Linked DNA regions of Homo sapiens. The protein of the gene in region 1 purifies or fractionates together with the protein of each later gene. This does not show direct contact. Each region holds a gene or a part of one and is shown in the gene's direction. Other genes may lie near its edges. The genes, in order: EYA3, SOAT1, TIMM21, WDR97, MTMR3, TOMM70 and UBE4B.

Region 1 (3,500 bases):
TTATTTTGGTTTGGTTTGATTATTTTTGGTTCTTTTTTGTCATTTTATTTGCTAATGTACTTTGTCTTACTTGTTTTGTTTGTTTGTTTTTTGGTCCTTGAATCCTGTGTTTACGGAGATGTAGTTTTTTGTTTGTTTGTTTGTTTTTTTGAGACAAAAAACAAAACAAAACCTTGCTCTGTTGGCCAGGCTGTAGTGCAGTGGCACGATCTCGGCTCACTGCAGCCCTGACCTCCTGGGCTGAAGTCATCCTCCCACAGCCTCCAGAATAGCTGGGACTACAGGTTCATGCCACCATACCTGGCTAATTTTGAAATTTTTTTGGAGAGGCAGAGTTTCACCATGTTGCCCAGGCTGATCTCAAACTCCTGGACTCAAGCAATCTGCCTGCCTCGGGCTCTCAAAGTGCTGAGATTAAAGGTGTGAGCCACCACCCACAGGCGGCTGATGTAGTTTTGAAAATTTAAGAAACAAAGTATACCTCCAACAAGTCCTTGTCACTTGTACCTTGTAGCATTATGGTTTCTGTGCTGTGCCTAAGCTGTTTCATGACTTCATTTATTTTGTTTTGATTATAAATAAAAGCCTCATGGAACTTCTTTTTAGGTAGCGGTTTGTCCAAAAGATATTTCTGTTCTGCATGTAACAACAGGATACTTTAGCTCATGTATGATTTAAATGGAGGAAGAATAGTTCAAAATAGAAATGTGTATTTTAAAATATTAGGAATAGTCAGCACTTTGGGAGGCCAAGGCAGGCAGATTGCCTGAGTTCAGGAGTTGGAGAACAGCCTGGGCAACACGGTGAAACCCCATCTCTACTAAAATACAAAAAATTAGCTGGGCGTGGCGGCGTATGCCTGTAGTCCCAGCTACTCGGGAGACTGAGGCAGGAGAATTGCTTGAACCAGGGAGGCGGAGGTTGCAGTGAGCTGAGATCGTGCTACTGCACTCCACCCTAGGCGACAGAGCGAGACTCATCTCAAAAAAAAAAAAAAAAAAAAAAAAAAAAAAAATATATATATATATATATATATATATATATATATATATATTTTGGAATAGTCAATGCTTCCCAGATGTTCATCTAATTGGTTTATACCAAAAGGTTGAATTGTTATATTGATAGTAAGGTGGAAAATAGGTGGACTTTCTGTTTTCTAATTAACTTAAAAATACAAGTGCATATTCTTTTACAAAGTGTATGGCTTAAGCTCTAAACTACCCTGTTGATACTGGTATCTTTTACTGTCAGATAACATAGCAAATAATGGAACATATCATCCTTGATATTTTTATTTAGTTCCATCAACCTAAGTTCCAGGGTAGCTAATTATTAAATGTAGAAGTAATTTAGGCATTTTCTCTGTTCTTTATAGTAGTATATTTAAAAACAGCCATTTAAAATATGGGCTTCCTAAAATTTGTCTTTGCTGTTTTCCCATTTAAGTATGCAATAGTATTTTGAATCAGAAAAGGAATGTGTAGTTTAAATAGTGCCAACTTACTGTAAATAAGTTAACAGATCAGCCCAAGGCAGTCAGTGCTTAATATCGTGAAGATCTTACTACAGATTGTTTTGGATGCACTTTAACTTATTAGCTGTGGTTAATGTTTGTAGCAGTTAGATGGTTTTCATTTTCTTCCCTAGAAAATAATTAGCAATACTCTTTGTAATACATTTATTTCAGCAAATATTGTTTAGGCACCTACTGTGTACAGTTACAGTAATACATATTTAGGCTATTTATGTGGCTAGGTAATATTGTACCAGGCTGATATGTACACTTAAATTCTGAATTTGATCTTATTTGTACATTTCTGAATTAAACGTAAGACAACATAATTAGAATTAAATAAACTTAATTAACATAAAATCATGTTCTTTCGTTATAGATACAATCAAATAATTTTCACTTGGGAAACTTTCACAACTGAACCATGAAACTCTGTAGTGGTAAAACAGTAAAAATAAAAGTGAACTTTATACAGCACTTACTATGTACCAGGAACTATTTTAAGTAGTTTACATGTATTAACTCTTTAATCTTTACAACCCTATGAAATAAGGGTACTATTCTTTTTTTTTTTTGAGACGGAGTCTTGCCCTGTCGCCCAGGCTAGAGTGCAGTGGCACAATCTCTGGTCACTGCAACCTCTGCCTCCTGGGCTCAAGTGATTCTCCTGCCTCAGCCTCCTGAGTAGCTGGGATTACAGGCGTGTGCCACCAAGCCCGGCTAATTTTTGTATTTTTAGTAGAGATGGGGTTTCACCATGTTGGTCAGGCTGGTCTTGAACTCCTGACCTCGTGATCTGCCTGCCTCAGCCTCCCAAAGTGCTGAGATTACAGGCGTGAGCCACCGTGCCCAGCCAAGGGTACTCTTCTTACTATCTCCATTTTACATATAAGGAAACTGAGGTACAGAAGTTATGTAACTTGCCCAAAGTAACACAACTAGTTATCAAAGAGCTGGATTTGAACTTAGTCTTTTTGGCTCCTGAGTTAATCTTATTTGTACAAGGGTCTGCTACTTTAGTGATTTCTTTCTTTATAGGTTGAGGTTAAAAATCTAGTTTGTCTGAAACACAAAAGAATACTGCTTTTGGTTAGGAACCTTAAGGAGGGTTTTACTTGGCCTTTTTACTAATGCTGGCTTAAGGCAAATTGCAAACCTTTTACTACCGATGTTTCTCAGATGGCAAAACCATATATTAAGAAAGCAATAAGGGATCAAATTCCTCCCCCGTTAGAAAAATTATCTTATGGAAGTTAATTACTTTGGAGTTACTTGGAGATAAGTCACTATTTTTTATAAAATGGCCCCTCGAAGTTAATTTTTTTCTTTTACCTTCAGAGTATTAAACAAATTTATGTAATAGTCTTAAAATACTTAAATCTTACCATTCCCATATGAATTTAACAACTTTGAAATATAAAACAGAAGACTAAAACTGAAACATCTGATTTGCCACTGGTCTCATTTCCAAATTTGGAAATTTATGTGAAATTAAGGACATTCATCTCTTCAGGACTATCATGTTTAGAGTACATTCATCTCTTTAGGGCTATCATGTTTAGAGTAGTATATTTAAATTAGTGATTTTATTTTTACTTTAGAAAAGATGAGGGGAACTTTCACAAACAAATTACTTTCTAAATGAGAAGATGCAAATAATAGTCATTTAGAATATTATTGATCATATTAAGATGATTCTTTTGTTCCTTTATTAAGCCCAAATAAAAAAATTTAATCAAATATCTGGGGGAAGGAGATTATTTTATATAAGTTGAGGTGCACCTTAATGCAGGAGTCTTGTACTCAGATAATGATATTATTTTTCTGAATATTTTGAAAACAGTCGAGAATCGTAGAATCTGGTTTACAGAAAAAGTATAAATATTTCTGGTAAGAAGTGACATTTGATTAGGAATACTAATTTTAATTCTCATGTTAACTCTTATTAATTGAGACATTAAGTATACTGTTTTTTTATAGTAGC
Region 2 (3,500 bases), about 150 Mb from region 1:
AGATGAGTTTTTATTAGACTGTGAAGATCCTTGGTCCAGAGATTGAGTAGTAGTATATTAGATTACTCAAAATCATTTAAAAGATTAGCATTATCTTTCCAAAAACAAGTTAAAACAAGTTTAAAAACCTGTTTTAGTCAGATATAAAAGATTATTTAGGAAAAGTCATCTATATTATTGTTATATTCTAAAAGAAAATTAGACCAGTCTTAAATACAAAAGTCAATGAGAAGGTAAAATCTTTGTAAATGGTTGAGTTTTATAGACGTGTAGGGTAGTAATTGGTTATCATCATCATCATGATCAACATTATAGAAACTCATGTCAATTTTAACATTTTGGAAATAGGTAGTACTTAATATATATTAAATTTAGGGAGTAGAATATGAATAGGATTAAAAAATTCTTAACATTTGAAATAGTTTGTTTCCTGTTTTTAGTGACTGGCCTTTGTTTACTTAGAAAACATCCATTTCTGGTAGGTTTTAAAGAATGTAGACCATTCTTTTTTGAGATGTTTTTGGAGAGTGGATTAAGCATCTTCTCAACTGCTTTAAGTTAACTGCTTTAAGAAAAGATTTTATGGTGTTTTAAATTTAAATATACATTATTAACTTGTTTTGTTTGAACTACATTTACAGTGAACTGCTTGAAGTGGACCACATCAGAACAATATATCACATGTTTATTGCCCTCCTCATTCTCTTTATCCTCAGCACACTTGTAGTAGATTACATTGATGAAGGAAGGTAAGACAACAAAAAAGATGGCTGGCTAGTTGATGCATGAGAAGTTAGAGGTTTTCACTAAATTTTGGTAAAGGGTAAATTGATTAAATTGCTTCAGGAAATCCTAAAGCAGCAGATTTGAGGGTGATATTCCTTTGCCCTGAAAAGTTTAACTGATGGAGAAAATTAGAAGTTTCATTACTTTTATTTTTAAAATGGTTTATTTGAATAGACCATAATCAGTAATTTCTAGGTAATTTTCCCAAATGGGAGAACTTTATACACAGTTGACCTACGAACAGCACGGGTTTGAACTGTGCATGTCTATTTATACACAGAATTTTTTCAATCAATGTGTTTAGCACTCTGTATCCATGGGTTCTACATCTGCAAGCAAAGGCTGATTGGGATCTAGAGTATTCCAGGATGCAAAACACACATATAAGAATGGCAGATTTTTCATATCTGTGGGTTCCACGGGGCCAACTGTGGGCCTCGAATTTGCATAAGTTTTGGTGTCTGCACAGTTTCCTGGAACCAACCCCCCATGTATAGGGAGGGATAACTGTATATGACTTATTAACTTTTTGATTGTCTTTATTTAAGATGGTTACTTAAAACAAGTAGCTTATTGGAATTGAAGGTTGAAAAAGTTGATATTTCTTTTTAATGTGAAAGTCAAATTATAGGCCAGGCATGGTTGCTTGTGCCTGTAATCTCAGCACTTTGGGAGGCCGAGGCGGGAGGATCACTTGAGCTTAGGAGTTGGAGACCAGCCTGGGCAACATCTCTACAAAAAATTTAAAAATTAGCTGGGCGTGGTGGCAGACACTTGTAGTTCCAGCTACTCAGGAGGCTGAGATAGGAGGATCGCTTGAGCCAGGGAGGTTGAGGCTGCAGTGGAGCTGTGTTTGTGCCACTGCACTCCAGCCTGGATGCAAAGGAGACCAGATCTCAAAATAAAATTTTAAAACTCAAATTGTAGCTTAAAAAATGACAGCGTGGTAATCATGGATTGAATTATGTACTTTTTTTGAAAATTAAGTTTGGAGATAATGGTATAGTATATTAACATATTTTTAAATTGTACCTATTTCTTCTGAAAAATCATCTTTTGTACATAAGAACGATTGCTGTTTGAATATTTTCCATAGAATATTTTACAGTTAGAAAATTAATGTGAGAATCTAATCTTTCAGAAGTTCAAAGTCCAATTATCTTAGATATCTTAAGTTTGAAGACTGTATTTATCTTAGGGCTTTTAGAAAATTTGTTTCTAAAGAACATATATTGTTGATATATATATATATATATATATTGTAAAGCAGATGGTTAGAAGCAGATCTCTAACTAGCAGAACTATTACATCCATGACTTCAGCGTATTAACGTTGTGGTGTTTCCTAAGGTTGAAAGTTTGGTGTTTGAAACTTTTAAATTCTGTGAACTCAGTGTATATTAAAAATTCACCTCTATGTTCTTTTTCTGTACCTTTTCTCCCCAGGCTGGTGCTTGAGTTCAGCCTCCTGTCTTATGCTTTTGGCAAATTTCCTACCGTTGTTTGGACCTGGTGGATCATGTTCCTGTCTACATTTTCAGTTCCCTATTTTCTGTTTCAACATTGGGCCACTGGCTATAGCAAGAGTTCTCATCCGCTGATCCGTTCTCTCTTCCATGGCTTTCTTTTCATGATCTTCCAGATTGGAGTTCTAGGTTTTGGACCAACATATGTTGTGTTAGCATATACACTGCCACCAGCTTCCCGGTTCATCATTATATTCGAGCAGGTAAGGTTTTAAGTGTTACCCAAGGCGATGCTGTCCTCGGCTAAAATAATAATAATGATGATGACATACTGATACTATTATTTTTAGCTGTATTAACTTGGATAAATTTTCATATATTGTTCTTTTGCCATTATCTGTAAAATTGTTAAACTAGAATCATCTCACCTCTTAAGTTTCATTGTAGCTTCCATGTTCTCTGAATTTTGATAAATAAATTACGTTGAACTTTTTTTTTTTTTTTTGAGACAGAGTCTCGCTCTGTCACCTAGGCTGGAGTGCAGTGGCACCATCTCGGCTCACTGCAACCCCTGCCTCCCAGGTTCAAGTGATTCTTCTGCCTCAGCCTCCCAAGTGGCTGGGACTGCAGGCGCCTGCCACCACACCCGGCTAATTTTTGTATTTTTAGTAGAGATGGGGTTTCACCATATTGGCTAGACTGGTCTCAAACTCCTGACCTTACGATCCGCCTGCCTCGGCCTCCCAAAGTGCTGAGATTACAGGCGTAAGCCACCGCGCCCGGCCACATTGAATTATTTTTGATGCATCAAGATTTTGTTTCTGAATACTTTTTGTAAAAGTCATTTAAATTATAAAATATTTTCATAATTAAAAACTTCACTTTTGAAATGTCAGATTCATTGTTTTGTCATGTAACTATATAATAAAGGTTTTATTTTAATTTGTTTATACACTTATCAGGATTTTCTGACTTTACTGGCTATCTATAATGCATTTGACTAATGGAAAGGACACTTGCAGGAGACTTTCTTTGAAGAGACATCTTTTTCCTCCTGCTTTTGTAGATTCGTTTTGTAATGAAGGCCCACTCATTTGTCAGAGAGAACGTGCCTCGGGTACTAAATTCAGCTAAGGAGAAATCAAGTATGTAATTTCTTTTGTTCATTATTTCTTCCTCCCCTCCCCTCCTCTCCCCCCACCCCATTCCCTTCCCTTCCCTTCCCTTCTTTCCTTCTTTCCTTCCCTCC
Region 3 (2,509 bases), on another chromosome or scaffold:
TCCGTTCTTCACAGCTGCCTTCCAGAATGTGTTCAAAAGAAAGACAAGAAGGAGTGTATGGCTTATAAAGTGAATCTAATACAGTATTTGTTGCATTTAAACAAACTAGACATTTTCTTACGGAAAAATTATGAAATACAGCATATTTTATGTTCTCCCATTGACTCAATCATGACAATATTTCTGCTTTAACACCATCTTTCATGATTAGAAATGTTTGTTATTGGAAATGTTACACCATGTAAATAAAGGAAATAGATTTTAGTATTGTATTCATTTTATATTATAGAACTGCATAATGTCTGCAGAATAAAATTAAAACTAACAAATATGTCATTAGCAGCTGCCCTCCGCATACTTTGGAATCTGACTTGAGATAAGCATGTGAAAATGGTTGAGGGCCATAGGGAACCAGATGGTAAATACATTCTTCAAAATTGTGTGAGTTTTAGGAATCTGTCTCATATTTCGCGCTTCATGAATTAAGGGCCTAGTACATAGCGGGAAAAGTACACACTCCCAAGTTGGGTAGACCTGGGCACCCACCCCACCTTTTCTAGCAGGTGCGTGGTCAAGTGTCCCTGTTGTGTGGGTTGTTAGGATGGCAGTGTGATGAGAGGTACAAGCCTGGACCATAGAAGGCAGCCATGAAGTGCCCTCATCCCCTTTAGAACTTACTTGCACTGATACTTCTGACTGCCAAAAGAACATGGGAGTGAATGAGAGACATTCAAATACGTGTGTGAGGCCCCTTAAAGAAAAAAAAAAAAAAAAAGGAAATTCTATTTTATTTGAAATATTTGCTGGGGATTTGGAAAAAAGTGACCTTCACTTACAAGATCCTGATTCCATATCTATGTAAGTGCTATGTGCATTGGGAGGGGTCTAGAACCATGTTTATCTGCGGTGGCTTCAGTGTGAGGTATCCCCTCTGATGTGTTTGTTCCTTCTCCCCGAGAACTGTCTGTAGAGGAATTTCTGATGTGTTCTTGAAATTTTGGGATATTCAGGATAGAGAGACCTCCAGGCAATCTATCTCCCCTTTTTACTTTATCTCCCTGCTTAATTTAGTTAGTTTCTTGGTTTGACTGCTTGTTTTAGATGTTTTTAATTATAAAAATTTCCAACATTTAAGGAGTATAGAAAATATAACAGACACTCGTCTCCCTGACGTAACACACTTTGACTGAATGAGGCCTTAACTTAGGCTTTCTCTCCTAATCGTTTTTTCCTTTGCTATAGAATGTTCAGTTTCAGGATTCACTGAAATGTCAACATTTAACAGGCTGAGAAGTTCCACTTGCTATCCTAAACTCAAAAAAGCAGCCCTGCTCTTCAAACAACCTGCTCAAACTGTAGCTTGCTGAAGAAGCCCGGCATCTGAGCTCAGGTGGGGATTTAGCCACCCTCCATGGCCCTGTCATTTGACTTAAGACTGTTTGCTTTTTCTGTATTCATTTTTATGCACCTGCCATTTTACAATATGCTCATGCCCCTTTAAGATCTGAGCTTTTGGCCAGGCGAGGTGGCTCATGCCTATAATCCCAGCACTTTGGGAGGCTGAGGCAGGTCAATCACTGGAGGTCAGGAGTTCAAGACCAGCCTGGCCAACATGGTGAAACCCTATCTACTAAAAATTCAAAAAAAAAAAAATTAACCAGGCACGTTGACACACTCCTGTAATCTCATCTACTCAGGAGACAGGAGAAGCGCTTGAACCCAGGAGGCAGAGGTTGCAGTGAGCCAAGATCATGTCACTGCACTCCAGCATGAGTGACGGAGTGTGACTTCGTCTCAAAAAAAAAAAACAAAAAACAGATCTGAGCTTTTATAATTAGAAATAAAACTAAATTACTTTTTCAAAAGGAAAAACTCTGTACCAATAAGAGATTCTTCTGTATAGCCACAGGAAAATGTGATGTGTAACTCTCTAGATCTCTGTTTTCATTCCCTCTGATGTACCCTACTAAATGTTAAAATTTCTGTGTTTTAAGACCCTCTTTAATCCACTTTGATTGTGGTGTCTCTGTCCATGGGCTTACTCCCACTTTTTCTCTGAATTCTAGGGCACTTATCTGACTCTGCCTGGTATCCCCTTCCGTCATATTTGTGAATTTGCAAATGCTCTGGTCATTTTCCTCCAAGGCCTCTGTCATTCCTCCACACCTGATCAGTGAACTCTTTTCACAACTAACTCTAGAGCAGACTCTCCTGTCACTGTTTGCTCTTCCTCCTTAATGAAGAAATTATATGCAAGGCAAGAGTTTATCAGAAGTTCTGCTTTTAGCCCCGTGAGATTTCCAGCCTAACTACCCTGCAAGCTCCCTTCATAACTATTGTTGATCAATGCTAGTAATACTTTATCCATTTATTTCCATTTGGTAAGCCATTACAATATTACTTCTGTTTCTCTTATTCTCATCCAGAGACAGTTCCCCAATTCCTAATTCATAGATTTCTACTCAGGGTTACACTTACTATTTATTTTATATAGTACCACTCATGTGTT
Region 4 (3,500 bases), on another chromosome or scaffold:
GGTAGGCTAGGAGGTGGGGAGGGCTGGGGTCTCCTACCTCTGCTCCTCACCAGAGCCCACTGGCTGGACTGAGTGGAGAAGGCCTTGTCCCTGCTGAGCCTCGGCTGCCCTGGGTGCCTCTCCAGGCTCCTGCAGCTGAATGGTGCCCCTCAGGCCCTGGCTTTCTGCAGCAACAGTGGAGACCTGGTGCTGGCGCTGGGATCCCGCCTCTGCCTGGTGTCCCACAGGCTCTACCTGCCTACATCCTACCTAGTTAAGGTGTGTGGTGAGGACAGAGTGAGCAAGGTGGGCCCCCCTTGCTCACCTTGGGGGGCAGACCCAGGTTCCCCCAGCCAGGGATACAGGCTCCTTCCCCTATTCAGAAGATGTGCCGGAAGGCCCCAGACGTGGTGGACGACCCTCCGCTGCCACTGATGAGCCAGGAGTCACTGACTTCCGCCCAACTGCAGAGGCTCACCAACCTCCATGGGGCAGCCAGCCTCAGGTCCCATGCAGGCCTGCTCAGCCCTCCTGGAGGCCCTCCTTTCCCACTCTGGGTGGGGGCCTGGCGGTGTGGGGCCCTCTGGAGTTGATACAAGCCTGCCTGAGCCCTGGCACACCCGTTTGGGGTTGGTCCTTGTCCCAGCCTCTGCCCCAGCCCACTGGCATGCCACCCAGCATCCCACCTGTGCCTGTCCCTGTTTGCAGCGAGGCCTTGTCTCTCATCCATCGTCGGAGGGCAACATCTCAGCACCTGGTGCCGAAGGAGGTGGGGTGGGTCCTCCTTAGCCCGCCCTGCCCCGGCTCAGGCCCCAGCCGTCAGCCCTGGGGCAGGCCTGGGATCCCCATGGTTGCCCGGGCAGCACATAGCAAGGCTCAAGGAAGAGCAGGCTGATCCCTGAACCCTGACTCAGGACTTGGACGCCATAGTGGCCCGGGACCGAGACCTTCAGCAGTTGAGGCTGGGGCTAGTGGTCCCAGCAGCCCAGCCCCCACCCTCCTGGCAGCAGCGCCAGGAAGGCTTTGACAATTACCTCCGTCTGATCTACGGCTCTGGCCTGCTGGTAGGTGTAGGGCCTCCCCCAGCCCAGCCCTGACCCTGGCCCCTCTTCTCCACCCACCCCTCCCACCTGGTCTCTGATGGTCTGTCTGCTCCTGCTACCTCCCAGGGCATGCAGTCTGGAAGGGGGTCCCAGCAGTGGAGTGCCGGGACCCTCAGAGTGGAGAGAGAGACCCGGGATGTGTGTGCTGTACCCCAAGCTGCCCACTGTCTTGCCCGGGCTGAGGTCAGCACTGCAGCCCAAACAGTGCCAACAGCCCTGTCCCCACAGGACCTGGGAGCCCTGGGCCAGCACTTCTCCCAGTCTCCCCGAGTCACAGTGCCGATCCCACCCACCCACCGTAGGGTGCACAGCAAGGCATCCCAGGTGAGGCTTCCCACCCTCCCACATGCCTGCTGGGCCCCCATGACCCCTCTGCCACCCTGTGACTCCTCCTATGCCCCAGCTTCTGGCCCGCTCCTCACTGAGCCACTACCTGGGCATCAGTCTGGATCTGCAGCTGCAGTTGGAGCAGCTCCGAGGGAGGACGACCATGGCCCTGGACCTGCCATCCTCCCACTTGCAGTGCAGGGTGAGGGACCCAGGCAGGTGGGGTACCACCTACTGAGGGGCAGAGCTGCCGGGGTGCTAGGGGCTGTGTTGTTCTGAGCCCCCATTCCATCCCCCAGATCCCACTGCTGCCAAAGAGATGGGACAAGGAACCTCTCTCTAGCCTCAGGGGCTTCTTTCCTGCCACCGTGCAGCCCCACAAGGTGAGACCCCCTCCCAGCTCCTGGAGAGCCACTCCTCTCCAGGCATCACTCTTGTGCCTGCCATCTCCCCTTTGCTACAAATCTTTGTGTCCAAATCTGACCCAAGGGCCATGCCCACCTACAACCAGAGGGCCAGGCTGTAGCCTCCCACGCACCCCTCACCCCTCACCCTTCACCCTCTGTCTAGCCCTGTTCCAGTACAGCTGTGTTTGTGGCCACAGGCTCCTTGCTGCTCTGGGAGCTGACATCAGGCAAAGCCAGTCCCCCCAGCCGGTTATGCCACACACCCCTTTCCCCCGTGGAGGCGCTGGGAGGGCAGGTCCCCTAGGGACTTTTCCTGGAAGATCAGAATCCCTGCCCTTTAGAGGAGCAAAGTCAAGGGAACCTGGCCCTTTAGAATCCACTGTCTTCCCACCCTCACGTACACCAGGTGCCCAGGCAGGCCTCAGCCCCTCCCCCAGCATATTCCTGGCACTGTCACCTGCCCAGGTGGGTAATTGACTCTTTGGGCCTGGGTGCCACCATCATGCTCTTCATTGCCCTTTCTCCAAGCTCCTTCCTTCCTCCCTGGCCCCTGTGCTTCTTTTAGACTTTCTTGTCCCAGGGCTGGGGCCAAGTCCTGTAAGGAGCTTGCAGGGTGTCAGGGCCCCTAGAAGCCAGCACTTCTCCAGGTTTCCCTTCTCGTTTGTCAGAGCTGATGCTCACTGAGGGCCTCGCCCCTGGTATCTCAGGGTTCTCCTGCCATCTGTGTTGAGAGTAGGGGTTGCTAGCTCAGCCAGCTCTCGGAGGCCTGGCAGGCAGAGCTGGACTGGCGGCTGAGGGGCTCTGAGAGGTTATACAGGTGACCAAGGGTGGTGTCCAGGCTGGGGAATCCAGGTCCTCAGCATTCCCTGCTGTGCCCACCTCCAGCACTGCCTGAGGCCCATCTGCTTCCCCGGCTATGTGCCCAACTCCGCGGTGCTACAGCAGATGTGGCTAAATGCGGAGGTCAGCAGCCTCGGATCCCCGACTCAGCTCGCCTCCCAGAGAAAGCTCGAGGCAAGGGGCAGGGCTGGGGGTTTTGCCGGCAGGGGAGGGCTCTGCTGTCCTTGCAACCCATCAGGCACCATCTCTTGCCCCTCTGCAGCCAGGGGCAAGCCAGGATGCCCTGTGGTTGTGGCGCCCCAGGCCATCCCAAACCCAGTGGCAGAGGAAGCTGCTCCAATGGATGGGGGAGAAGCCTGGGGAGGAGGGGGAGGAAGACAAGAAGGAAGAGGAGGAGGAGAAGGAAGACGAGGAGCTGGACTGGGCCTTGGCTTCCCTGAGCCCGCACTCCAACCAGCAGCTGGATTCCTGGGAACTGGAGGATCAGGTAGAGGCTCAGGCAGAGGCCCCAGGCCACCACGGGAGGTGGGCTTACACTGAGACCCAGACAGGTGGGACCTGCAGCCACTGCTGCTCCCCTAGAGTGCTGTGGACTGGACCCAGGAGCCCCGGCGGCGCAGCTGCAAGGTTGCCAGGACCCACCCTCATCCCTGGCACCGTCATGGGAGTTTGCTCTTGGATGAGCATTACGGGCATCTGCCCAAGTTTCTGCATTTCTTCATCTACCAGACCTGGTTCAAAAAGTTGTTCCCCATCTTCAGCCTGCAGGTTGGAGGGAACTGGGGATGCATGAGAAGCATGGGTTAGGGTGAGGGACAGGGGAGAAGGTAGGGGCTGGCTTGGG
Region 5 (3,500 bases), on another chromosome or scaffold:
GCCTGGGCGACAGAGTGAGACTCCGTCTCAAAAAAAAAAAAAAAAGAAAATAGCACTTGCTGTTAGCTCATTTGTATGTATGGGGCATGGGGTTGGGGGAGTTTGAAAGGAAATCTGCACACTAGGAGGACTTGTTCCGGAGCTTTGCTGCTCCAGCAGTCTGGGCCTCGCTCCAGAGATGCTACAGCTCCATGAGTAGCCATAATGGACCCAGTTATGAAACAACTGCTTGTTAAAACCTATTGTCTCCTACTTCCTCCAAACAGTTTCCAAGATTTTCATTTCCCCCAAATTCCTTTCCTTTAGGCTACCAAAGACTAGATCATACGACAATCTGACCACAGCCTGTGACAACACAGTGCCTCTGGCCAGCCGGCGCTGCAGCGACCCCAGCCTGAACGAGAAGTGGCAGGAGCACCGGCGCTCACTAGAGCTGAGCAGCCTGGCTGGCCCTGGAGAGGATCCCCTTTCTGCCGACAGCCTAGGGAAGCCCACCAGAGTGCCGGGGGGTGCCGAGCTTTCTGTTGCAGCCGGAGTAGCTGAGGGGCAGATGGAGAACATCTTGCAGGAGGCCACCAAAGAGGAGAGTGGAGTAGAGGAACCTGCCCACAGGGCAGGCATTGAGATACAGGAGGGTAAAGAGGACCCTCTCTTAGAAAAGGAGAGCAGGAGGAAGACACCTGAGGCCTCAGCCATTGGACTTCACCAAGACCCAGAACTGGGTGATGCTGCTCTGAGGAGCCATCTGGATATGAGCTGGCCTCTGTTCTCACAGGGCATTTCTGAACAGCAGAGTGGGCTCAGTGTTCTCCTCAGTTCTCTCCAGGTCCCCCCCAGGGGAGAGGATTCCCTGGAGGTCCCTGTGGAGCAGTTTCGAATAGAAGAGATTGCAGAGGGTAGGGAGGAAGCAGTTCTTCCAATCCCAGTAGATGCAAAAGTTGGCTATGGTACCTCACAGTCATGTTCTCTGCTACCTTCCCAAGTCCCTTTTGAGACCAGAGGACCAAACGTGGACAGTTCTACAGACATGTTAGTGGAAGATAAGGTGAAGTCAGTAAGTGGGCCCCAAGGTCATCATAGATCTTGCCTTGTAAATAGTGGCAAGGACAGGCTTCCTCAGACCATGGAACCCAGCCCTTCAGAGACAAGCCTGGTCGAGAGGCCCCAAGTGGGGTCTGTGGTGCATAGGACTTCCCTTGGCAGCACTCTCAGCCTGACACGTTCCCCTTGTGCCTTGCCTTTAGCCGAATGTAAAGAGGGGCTTGTGTGCAATGGTGCCCCAGAGACTGAAAACAGGGCCTCAGAGCAGCCCCCAGGTCTTAGCACCCTCCAGATGTACCCCACACCCAATGGGCATTGCGCCAATGGGGAGGCTGGTAGGAGCAAGGACTCACTGAGCCGTCAGCTGTCTGCTATGAGCTGCAGCTCTGCCCACTTACACTCAAGGAACTTGCACCACAAGTGGCTGCATAGCCACTCAGGAAGGCCATCTGCAACCAGCAGCCCCGACCAGCCTTCCCGCAGCCACCTGGACGATGATGGCATGTCAGTGTACACAGACACGATCCAACAGCGCCTGCGTCAGATTGAGTCAGGCCACCAGCAGGAAGTAGAAACTTTGAAGAAACAAGTCCAGGAGCTGAAGAGTCGCCTGGAGAGCCAGTACCTGACCAGCTCCCTACACTTTAATGGAGACTTTGGGGATGAGGTGGTGAGTAGGCTGTGGTATTCCTCCATAGCTGCCCAAGGAGACGGCATGCTGAGGCTGGGTGCCCTTTGTGCCCAGTGCATGGTGATTGGTACAGGTTGTTAAAGGATTGGAAAGGTCCAGAGTAGCCCTGTTAAGAGAGGCTGGAGATGAGCCTCCACGACAGCGATGGCAGCCTGCCTGTTTTCTGCTTCGCTTACTTTCTGCAGATGTCCTGTTGAGGCCGTTGGAGAGGAAGAGACTTAGCATGCACTGCATGGTTGATCAGATCTCTCAGACACAGGATCATAAGTCTTCAGAAGGGCTTGAACCCATGGGCAGAATGACATCTGTAGGGCAATGCCAAGTTATTCCTGTCAGATTTTAGTGCCTGTTCTGCCTTAGTAACTACAAAGTATTAGTCCTTCCAGACGTGGGCTATGGCTTTGAAGGTTCAGTTCTTTTTAAACAAATATTTATACCCATCCTGTGGCAGATGCTGCCAGTAGAAATGGAGAGAAGGGACTGGTTTCTAGCACTGTTGAGGAGTTAGCTCTGATGGGGGTTTGTGGCTGGAAATGGGGGTTCCAGAGGGGGAGGTTCTCAAGGAGGTGCTTTCCTCTCTGGGTGGACTTGACTCAGGCAGCTCAAGTACAAGTGTGAGCCTGGCTCTCAAGTGGTCAGCGTACATTAAAGGCGGGCACATCCAGTGACTTTCAGTTCAGAGTGACTTGGCTTTTCCTTCATGCTAATGATAGTTTCTCATGTTCCCAGAGAGTCCTTCTAAGAAAAGGAGGGCATCCCGAAAGCACTCAGCTTTAACTTAGTGGCAGGCAGGGTTGGATTGACAGGCCCACTGGAGCAGCTGACATACAGAATTCTCATTCCATTTTGGTCACTTCCCTCTCACTCACTTTCTGGAACCCTGAGGGCCTGTTTTTCTACTCCAGAGTCACTGCACACAACCTGTGTATCCCTCTCCCAGCTGAGCCCAGGCCCACACTGCACTTCTTCACCCCAGTTCTTGATGGCTGATGCATCTGCAGATTCGGCAGTCCTAGCACTCGGCCCCACCCAGAGTCCTCAGTTCTCCCTTCTTCACCAGGCCTTTTCTTCTTTTGGGAGGAGACCAGGTTCATTCTGTTCAGCTGTGTTTGTTTGCCAACAGACTTCAATCCCCGACTCGGAAAGCAATCTGGATCAGAACTGTTTGTCTCGCTGCAGCACAGAGATTTTCTCTGAAGCCAGCTGGGAGCAGGTGGATAAACAGGACACAGAGGTACAGGCTCAGCCCCTGCTCTGAGTGCCATCAATTTAACTGTTTTGTGGTTCTTCTCCACCCCCATTCCCACCCCATACCCCTGGCCAAGGAAGCACCTCCCAGCACAGCTAGCCCTGAGCCTCTGGCACCTTAGCTCCTGGGAACCCACATGAAGCCTAGGATTTCTGAGCCAGGGAGACTCAGCAAGCTGGCCCTCCCTCTTCATTGCCTCTATGAACTGGAGCCTTGCCAGCTCTCACAGTGACCCAGGGTGCTGCTGCCTGCTACTTTATCTCAGGGGAGATTGGAGTCCCCTCCAGGGAAACGATTTGGACGCCTTTCTTGTACTGTTGACATCAGATCTGCTGGGCTGGTGCCACTGGAGCTGATGTGGTCCTTGTGACTCTTGCTGCCCCCAGCATGGCTCTGCTGGCTCCAGCTGGATGGCCCATCTCCTGTCAGTAACCTGGTCCCATCTGTTTTGCAGATGACCCGTTGGCTTCCTGACCACCTGGCCGCCCACTGCTATGCGTGCGACAGTGCCTTCTGGCT
Region 6 (3,500 bases), on another chromosome or scaffold:
TAACATTTCATTGTGGTTTCAGCCACCCCACCTCATCCCAGGGGATCTGTACCATTGGTATTTGATAAAACCTAGCCATCTCCTTTTCACATTTTAGATGTCCTAATTCCTCTTTTCCACGTTGTCTGGATCAACACTGATGATTTTTTAATTTCATGATATTTCAGAGTTTTTTAGTTTTACAAATAACTTTTTTTTTTTGATACGGAGTCTCACTCTGTCACCCAGGCTGGAGTGCAATGGCGAGGTCTCGGCTCACTGCAACCTCTGCCTCCTGGGCTCAAGAGATTGTCCTGCCTCAGCCTCCCAAGTAGCTGGGATTACAGGCACGCACCACCACGCCTGGCTAATTTTTGTATTTTTAGTAGAGACAGGGTTTCACCATGTTCGCCAGGCTGGTCTCAAACTCCTGACCTCGTGATTCACCCGCCTTGGCCTCCCAAAGTGCTGGGATTACAGGCATGAGCCACTGCCCCTGACCACAAATAACTTTTTATTCACCTGACTGCTGTTAAAAATTAGAATTTAAGATTGGACTCTTTGTGTAACTTAAACTGCTTTAAAATGATTTATTTTTGGCCCCAAATAAAATAAGGCAAAACATTTGCACTTACCATTGTCCATCTTGTGGAATATGTAGGCCTACACCTGTAATCTTTGAATTACTAGATTGTTCTTTGGTAAAGCAACAATAGGAAGGTCTTTGTGATTTTTTTAAACTGGAAATTTATATCTTAACTGTTGGTGACCAGTAAATATTGAAAGACTACTTTTGTCTTCTTTTAATAGTCTGGTCCTTAGAGTTATTATTAGACTATCTAAATGTAATTAATTGATCAGTAATTGTAATTTCTTATCTGTGGTTGGATAAACTGCTGTACATTTGAATAGCACCTCTAAATTGGCATCCTCGGTGGATTTCGCAACCAGAAGCATTTGCTTTCACTGATGGAAACCTGGCAGAATCCTGATGCCCTAACTGTCCTTTCTCCACCTGAGCAATAGCTACAGTTTTTAAAGGAATGAATAAATAGACAAATATTGTCTGTTTAGGGTTTGATATCAGAAAATAGAATGGAAAATCTGTATTTTTGTCTTTTGGCTTATGTTTACCTTAATGTAAAATGATCTGATAGAATTACTGGACTTCTGTCTATTGGGTTGGAGATTTTCCTTTACAATTAGTGTGCACAATTACCTTTTTTCTGGGATAGCAAAAACTTGTAAAGGAAGTGCAAAGGATATTCATAGTTGTTTTAATTAATGGGAATATTGGGGTATCACTGAAGAAAAGCATTTAGTCACAGTTGATAGTGTCTAAGACTGAGGTGCTTAAAGTATTAGATCATATTCCATTTTGAACTATTATAAAATCTACCATGATGTGCCATTTTGCTTCAGTAATTTTTTTAAACTTGAAGAATTAAAAAAAAATTTTAAATTGCAAGGCTTTTTAGAAGATCATATTATCCATAGTGCTTCTCAATCTGTGGGCTTGAGTCATCACGAGGGACCACCACACATATATTCCAAGCATGGTATCCTGGCTGTACCAATGTCCCAGATACTTCTTTTTCAAACATCCTGTGATTTTCTAGAAAAATGCACTTATTTAAAAGCATTATTGACTTCATTGTAACTTTTTTGTCCAATTGTTATTTAATCTGATGATAAAAAATGCATCATTCTTGTGTTCATATTTAGCATTAAATATGTTTAGCCCATGAAATGAGTTTAGCCCACATGAAATGGTTAGGAACCAATAATCTAAGCCAGCCTACTACAGTAGGAAAGGGAAGATGTACCTACACATTTTAGTAAAGGGTCGAGGACTGCATAAACTGTTGTTATTGGTCATCTTGTTTGAAATGAAGTCATTCTCTCCCCCAAATGATCTGTTTTGAGTCATTTTTAAAAAATCAATCAGGGACACCAATGACATTCCCTCTAAGCTTAGTTAACACTTTTCAATCTTAATCCTTGGCAGTATTTCATATTGTGCTCTAAATGTCATAACTTTTCCTGCTGCTTCTGAGGTACTCCATTTTCCTGATTTAAAAAAAAAAAAAAAAAAACCTGATACCAGCCTCATGGATTCTTAGTCTCCTTATCACAATACAGAGGTCATTTCATCTTTTCTGAAACTTCTCTCTACCTAAGCACACCACTATGTGATTTTATAACACCCTGGACTTTTCCATTTTATAGCACTTACCACGTGGTACTAGAATTGCTTATTGCTGTTTCCTGCTATGCTCTTGAATCTGTGAAGGCTGAGACTGGCTCTATCTTGTTCACCATTGTATTGCCAGAACCTAATACAGGTGCATAGCAAGTGTTGAATGAATGAAGTTTCATTTTTTGACTAATAATTAAGGGTTCCTTTGACATCCCTAAGTTTATATTTTATATATGTGTGTGTGTATGTATATATAAATTTCACAAGTGGTATATTTTTCAAATTTTCCAGCTCTTCATTTTTGTTCTACCAGTTAATGCTGGATTCCGTGGAAATCTTTTTTCCTTTCTCTTTTTTTTTTTTTTTTTGAGTTGGAGTCGCGCTCTGTCACCCAGGCTGGAGTGCAGTGGTGCAATCTCTGCTCACCGCAACATCCGCCTCCTGGGTTCAAGTGATTCTCCTCCCTCAGCCTCCTGAGTAGCTCGCCACCATGCCTGGTGAATTTTTTGTTTGTTTGTTTTGGGTTTTTTTGTTTGTTTTTTGAGATGGAGTCTCACTCTGTTGCCCAGGCTGGAGTGTAGTGGCGCAATCTCGGCTTACTGCAACCTCTGCCTCCCGGGTTCAACCGATTCTCCTGCCTCAGCCTCCCGAGTAGCTGGGATTACAGGCGAGTGCCACCACACCCTGCTAATTTTTTGTATTTTTAGTAGAGACAGAGTTTCACCATGTTAGCCAGGATGGTCTCAATCTCCTGACCTCATGCTCTGCCTGCCTCGGCCTCCCAAAGTGCTAGGATTACAGGCGTGAGCCACCGCGCCTGGCCGTAAATCTTAAACCTCATTTGGGCATACTTTTTGTAAATCAGTTGATTATGCATGACCTACAATCATAATCCTGCAGAAGCAGTCATTATAAAAGTATATTCTTCCTAGGTAAAGAGTTATTATGATTTAGTAGGTGGGGTTGGTTGTCATTTTTAAAATTTCCAGACGTGAAATGGGAAAGGACTTTTTTATTATCTTAGGTTTTATTCCTTATTAGGTTTGAATCCTTATTATCTTAGGTATTATTATCCTAGGTTTGATTCATATGAAAGTAACAATTGGTTGGCCAGGTACAGTGGCTCACACCTGTAATCCCAGCGCTTTGGGAAGCTGAGGCAGGTGGATCACCTGAGGGCAGGAGTTCAAGACTGGCCTGGCCAACATGGTGAAACCCCATCTCTACAAAAATACAAAAATTAGCCGGGCATGATGGTGGGTTTCTGTAATCCCAGCTACTCAGGAGACTGAGGGGAGAGGATCACTTGAACCCGGGAGGT
Region 7 (3,500 bases), about 18 Mb from region 1:
GTCCATGAGATCAACCTTGTTTTCAAATTTAAAACATGAAATCACTGTGTTGGCCATGCAGAGTGTTTGGTGTGCAGTGAGATGCATCAGTGAAGACAGTTAGCAGCCTGGTACATCTTCCACCTATCCAAGTCCTAGACAGGAGTTAAATGCACTTATTACAATGTACTTTGTATAGCTTATGAAAAAGATAACTTATCTCCTAGCAATGAGCATACCATAGTTGGGATGAAATTTTGTTACTTAAAAAAAAAAAACCTATTAAAAATGCAAATAAAAAAGGCAAAGCTGTACATACTAAGAAAATGAATACAATTTTATCTTTATGTGTTTACTTTGTGCAGAAAATCTCAGTGTAGCTCTCTTGTTCACCCTCCCTGTTTCCTAAGGTCATATTTACTTGGGAAGTAGAAATCTGCTTAGCTCTTTAACGCACTTAGAGCAGGCATACATTGTGGACAGAAGCTTCAGCTAGATTCCCATGGGGAGGCTTGAATGTTGTGAAAATGCTGAAACTAGAATGAAAATTAGAAGCTCCTTTCTGTTCTGAATTCGCTTATTTGAAATTTTGGGAGAAAAGTATTTTGAAGTGTTACTGAATATTTTCGTTGCAGAAGTGTAAAGGAAAAAATATCAAAATGAAATTAGTTTATTCTATGTATAAATTAAGTCTTATGTAAATTGAGACCATGGTTGTTTTTCTTACTGTATTTATTTCTTTTACTTATTCCACTGATTGGATTCCATTATACCATGAATTCATTACTGACGATCTGTTCTGTGCTAGACACTGGTGATACAGAAGCTAGGAAGACAAGGTCCCTCTCCTCAAGGCACTCATAATCTACTGCAAAAATAAGAGCTACAGCGCAACAGTTGAACAGATACTGTGATAAATGTTAAAACAGAGCTGTACACAAAGGGTGTATTTATCTATTTAAAAAATTCAAACCTGTCATGGCACTAAAAGGCTACAAGAATGCTGGGAAATTAGAAGGTGAAACCAGAATTCCTACTTTAAAAAATAATTTTAAGTGGATTTATGCCAGAGCTCTTTCCATTGTACATGTTATTGGGGCTCCTGGTAAAATTATTTGAATCCTTATGTATTGTTCTCCCTGTGGCAGATAAAAGGAAGTGGAATAATCTGATTGTTTGAGTTCAGTGATGAAATATTTTAGTGAACACTAATTATCACCATATTATGTAGATGTTCCTTCATGGGACTGTTGGCTTTTGGGTTGTGGTGTGAATTAGCTTGATGTTTCAGTGAGGAGCTTTTAGCATCTGATATCACCAAAATGTCCTTTTGTTCAAAAGACAGAGGCCTCCATTGTGGTAGACAGTGATTTCATTTTGTGCCATTATTGATGCTTGCATAATAACGAGGACACAGTGAGTGAGAGGGTACAATAATGAGAGGCAGGAAGCGGAAGACTGTTGAAGCTAAAATCAGAAATCATTGTGATCATTCTCTAGGTCAGTGGATCCTGCTGTGCCATACGTTGGAATCACCTTGGAATCAGCTGGGGATCTTTAAAGGTGTTTCTGCCTGGCTCCCCACCCCAGACCTTGTGATTTAATTCACCAGGGGTGTGGCATGGCATTGGGGTTTCCAAAGGCTTCCCATGTGATCCTAATATGCAGCCACGTTTGTGAACTCCTGCACTAGGCAGTGAGAACGCTTCCTTCTGAGTTGAGGCTGCCTGAACCTCAAAGGCATCTCAACGTTGTGTCAATGCCTAAATGCACTCTTCGGCTCATGTAGCAACTTCTAGAGCTGCGTCCGAATCACAGAGGAAATTAACTGTTGAAAATAATGTTTGATTGAGTTACCATGGGCATGCTAAATTATGTTTATGTCCCTAAAAAGTGTTTTTCATCGTTCTCTAATGTTAGGATGGTTGGATGTCTGAAGGAAAGTGTTGGAATTCTTAAAAGTACTAGAAATCTTGAAACCAAGTTATGTTTTTAAATATGTTTTGAATTTGATAGCTTATTAAATTGTAATTATTTATAGTCATGTTTAACACTGGCAAGAGGAGCCATCTAAAGTTTATGAAATAAATCTTTTTGACATGGAAAGATATGAAGTGGAAAAACTTTTTTGTAAAAAACATATATAGATACAGTACACAAAAATATATCTGAAAACTGTTGCTCAAAATATCAATAGAGGTTATCTTTGAGGGTAAAGCTTGAGTAATTTTTAGTTTCATTTTATATTTCTGTTTTATTTCAAGTTTTCACATTGCATGTGTTTTAGTTTATTAATCAGAAAAAGTAGTGAAGCTGCTGCCATTTCAGAGGGAATGCATGTGTGCCATTTTAGAGGGAACGAATTTATAGCAGCAGTTAAAACTGTTTCTTTATGCTACAAATGACAGTCAGTTTAAGATGAAATGCATTTAAATGACTCTGATCTTATTTCTAGGCACTAGGTGAGCTCTGTGAAACCAAGTTTGGGAAGACACACCCTGTGTGCAATTTGGTAAGCACTCACCTGATGGGCTTGCACATTTTCAGTGAATATATCATAACCCAGAAGGCATTCCTCTAGTGAGATGGCCTGGAAAATGTCTCTTGAAGGACATTTAGGTGTAGGCGGAGGTAACGTGTCTGGGAGGCTCTCAACTGTTACATTTTTGTTAGACACGTTATATCCTGCATTACAGTTGTTCATTTCTATGATTTTTTTCCCTTTTTTTTCTAAGAATCTCACTCTGTCACCCAGGCTGGATGGAGTGCAGTGGTGGGATCTTGGCACACTGCAGCCTACGCCTCCTGGGTTCAAGTGAGTCTCGTGCCTCAGCCTCCCAAGTAGCTGGGAATACAGGCATGCATTACCATGCGAGGCTAATTTTTTTGTATTTTTAGTAGAGATGGAGTTTTACCATGTTGGCCAGGCTGGTCTCGAACTACTGACCTCAGGTGATCCACCCGCCTCAGCCTCCCAAAGTGTTGGGTTACAGGCGTGAGCCACCGCACCGGGCCTGTTTTTTTTCCCTTGACAAGTATTGTACAACTAAACTAACAAGAGGTATGGAAAAGTTATTCGAGTCCTTTGGTGGTATAAGAAGAGTTCATTTGAACTTCATCCAATAGTATCCTGAAACTTAAACATTCTTTTTTTTGAGACAGAGTCTCACTCTGTCACCCAGGCTGGAGCGCAGTGGCGCAATCTCAGCTCACTGCAACCTCTGCCTCCTGGGTTCAAGCGATTCTCTTGGCCTCAGCCTCCCCAGTAGCTGGGATTACAGGCGCACACCACCACGCCCGGCTAATTTTTGTATTTTTAGTAGAGACGGGGTTTCTCCATGTTGGCCAGGGTTGTCTCGGACTCCTGACCTCAGGTGACCCACCCCCACCCACACTGGCCTCCCAAAGTGCTGGGATTACAGGCGTGAGCCACCATGCCTGGCTGAAACATAAAAGTTTTAATAATATCTTGTGAAAATACAGAGGAGCTGGAGAGTTTTCATTACATTTTTACCCCACCG

Evidence for each region.
Region 2: the proteins of EYA3 (region 1) and SOAT1 purify together in Homo sapiens (affinity purification with mass spectrometry, with the first as the bait; one large-scale study listed by BioGRID). This does not show direct contact.
Region 3: the proteins of EYA3 (region 1) and TIMM21 purify together in Homo sapiens (affinity purification with mass spectrometry, with the first as the bait; one large-scale study listed by BioGRID). This does not show direct contact.
Region 4: the proteins of EYA3 (region 1) and WDR97 purify together in Homo sapiens (affinity purification with mass spectrometry, with the first as the bait; one large-scale study listed by BioGRID). This does not show direct contact.
Region 5: the proteins of EYA3 (region 1) and MTMR3 purify together in Homo sapiens (affinity purification with mass spectrometry, with the first as the bait; one large-scale study listed by BioGRID). This does not show direct contact.
Region 6: the proteins of EYA3 (region 1) and TOMM70 purify together in Homo sapiens (affinity purification with mass spectrometry, with the first as the bait; one large-scale study listed by BioGRID). This does not show direct contact.
Region 7: the proteins of EYA3 (region 1) and UBE4B purify together in Homo sapiens (affinity purification with mass spectrometry; one large-scale study listed by BioGRID and IntAct). This does not show direct contact.

The regions. Positions count from the first base shown.
Region 1 is NC_000001.11:28,082,111-28,085,610, reverse strand, and holds part of EYA3 (protein phosphatase EYA3), read left to right. Parts: intron 1-3,500. UniProt on the Homo sapiens protein: Tyrosine phosphatase that specifically dephosphorylates 'Tyr-142' of histone H2AX (H2AXY142ph). 'Tyr-142' phosphorylation of histone H2AX plays a central role in DNA repair and acts as a mark that distinguishes between apoptotic and repair responses to genotoxic stress.
Region 2 is NC_000001.11:179,338,797-179,342,296, forward strand, and holds part of SOAT1 (sterol O-acyltransferase 1), read left to right. Parts: intron 1-641; coding exon 642-749; intron 750-2,231; coding exon 2,232-2,514; intron 2,515-3,213; exon of another isoform or gene 3,214-3,317; coding exon 3,318-3,396; intron 3,397-3,500.
Region 3 is NC_000018.10:74,158,523-74,161,031, forward strand, and holds the end of TIMM21 (mitochondrial import inner membrane translocase subunit Tim21 precursor), read left to right. Parts: 3' UTR 1-2,009; downstream 2,010-2,509. UniProt on the Homo sapiens protein: Participates in the translocation of transit peptide-containing proteins across the mitochondrial inner membrane.
Region 4 is NC_000008.11:144,110,739-144,114,238, forward strand, and holds part of WDR97 (WD repeat-containing protein 97), read left to right. Parts: coding exon 1-1; intron 2-125; coding exon 126-258; intron 259-362; coding exon 363-484; intron 485-687; coding exon 688-748; intron 749-893; coding exon 894-1,043; intron 1,044-1,148; coding exon 1,149-1,406; intron 1,407-1,485; coding exon 1,486-1,611; intron 1,612-1,708; coding exon 1,709-1,792; intron 1,793-2,701; coding exon 2,702-2,779; coding exon of another isoform or gene 2,780-2,830; intron 2,831-2,918; coding exon 2,919-3,143; intron 3,144-3,238; coding exon 3,239-3,424; intron 3,425-3,500.
Region 5 is NC_000022.11:30,019,174-30,022,673, forward strand, and holds part of MTMR3 (phosphatidylinositol-3,5-bisphosphate 3-phosphatase MTMR3), read left to right. Parts: intron 1-306; coding exon 307-1,711; intron 1,712-2,855; coding exon 2,856-2,966; intron 2,967-3,435; coding exon 3,436-3,500. UniProt on the Homo sapiens protein: Lipid phosphatase that specifically dephosphorylates the D-3 position of phosphatidylinositol 3-phosphate and phosphatidylinositol 3,5-bisphosphate, generating phosphatidylinositol and phosphatidylinositol 5-phosphate.
Region 6 is NC_000003.12:100,394,590-100,398,089, reverse strand, and holds part of TOMM70 (mitochondrial import receptor subunit TOM70), read left to right. Parts: intron 1-3,500. UniProt on the Homo sapiens protein: Acts as a receptor of the preprotein translocase complex of the outer mitochondrial membrane (TOM complex). Recognizes and mediates the translocation of mitochondrial preproteins from the cytosol into the mitochondria in a chaperone dependent manner.
Region 7 is NC_000001.11:10,126,958-10,130,457, forward strand, and holds part of UBE4B (ubiquitin conjugation factor E4 B), read left to right. Parts: intron 1-2,434; coding exon 2,435-2,491; intron 2,492-3,500. UniProt on the Homo sapiens protein: Ubiquitin-protein ligase that probably functions as an E3 ligase in conjunction with specific E1 and E2 ligases. May also function as an E4 ligase mediating the assembly of polyubiquitin chains on substrates ubiquitinated by another E3 ubiquitin ligase.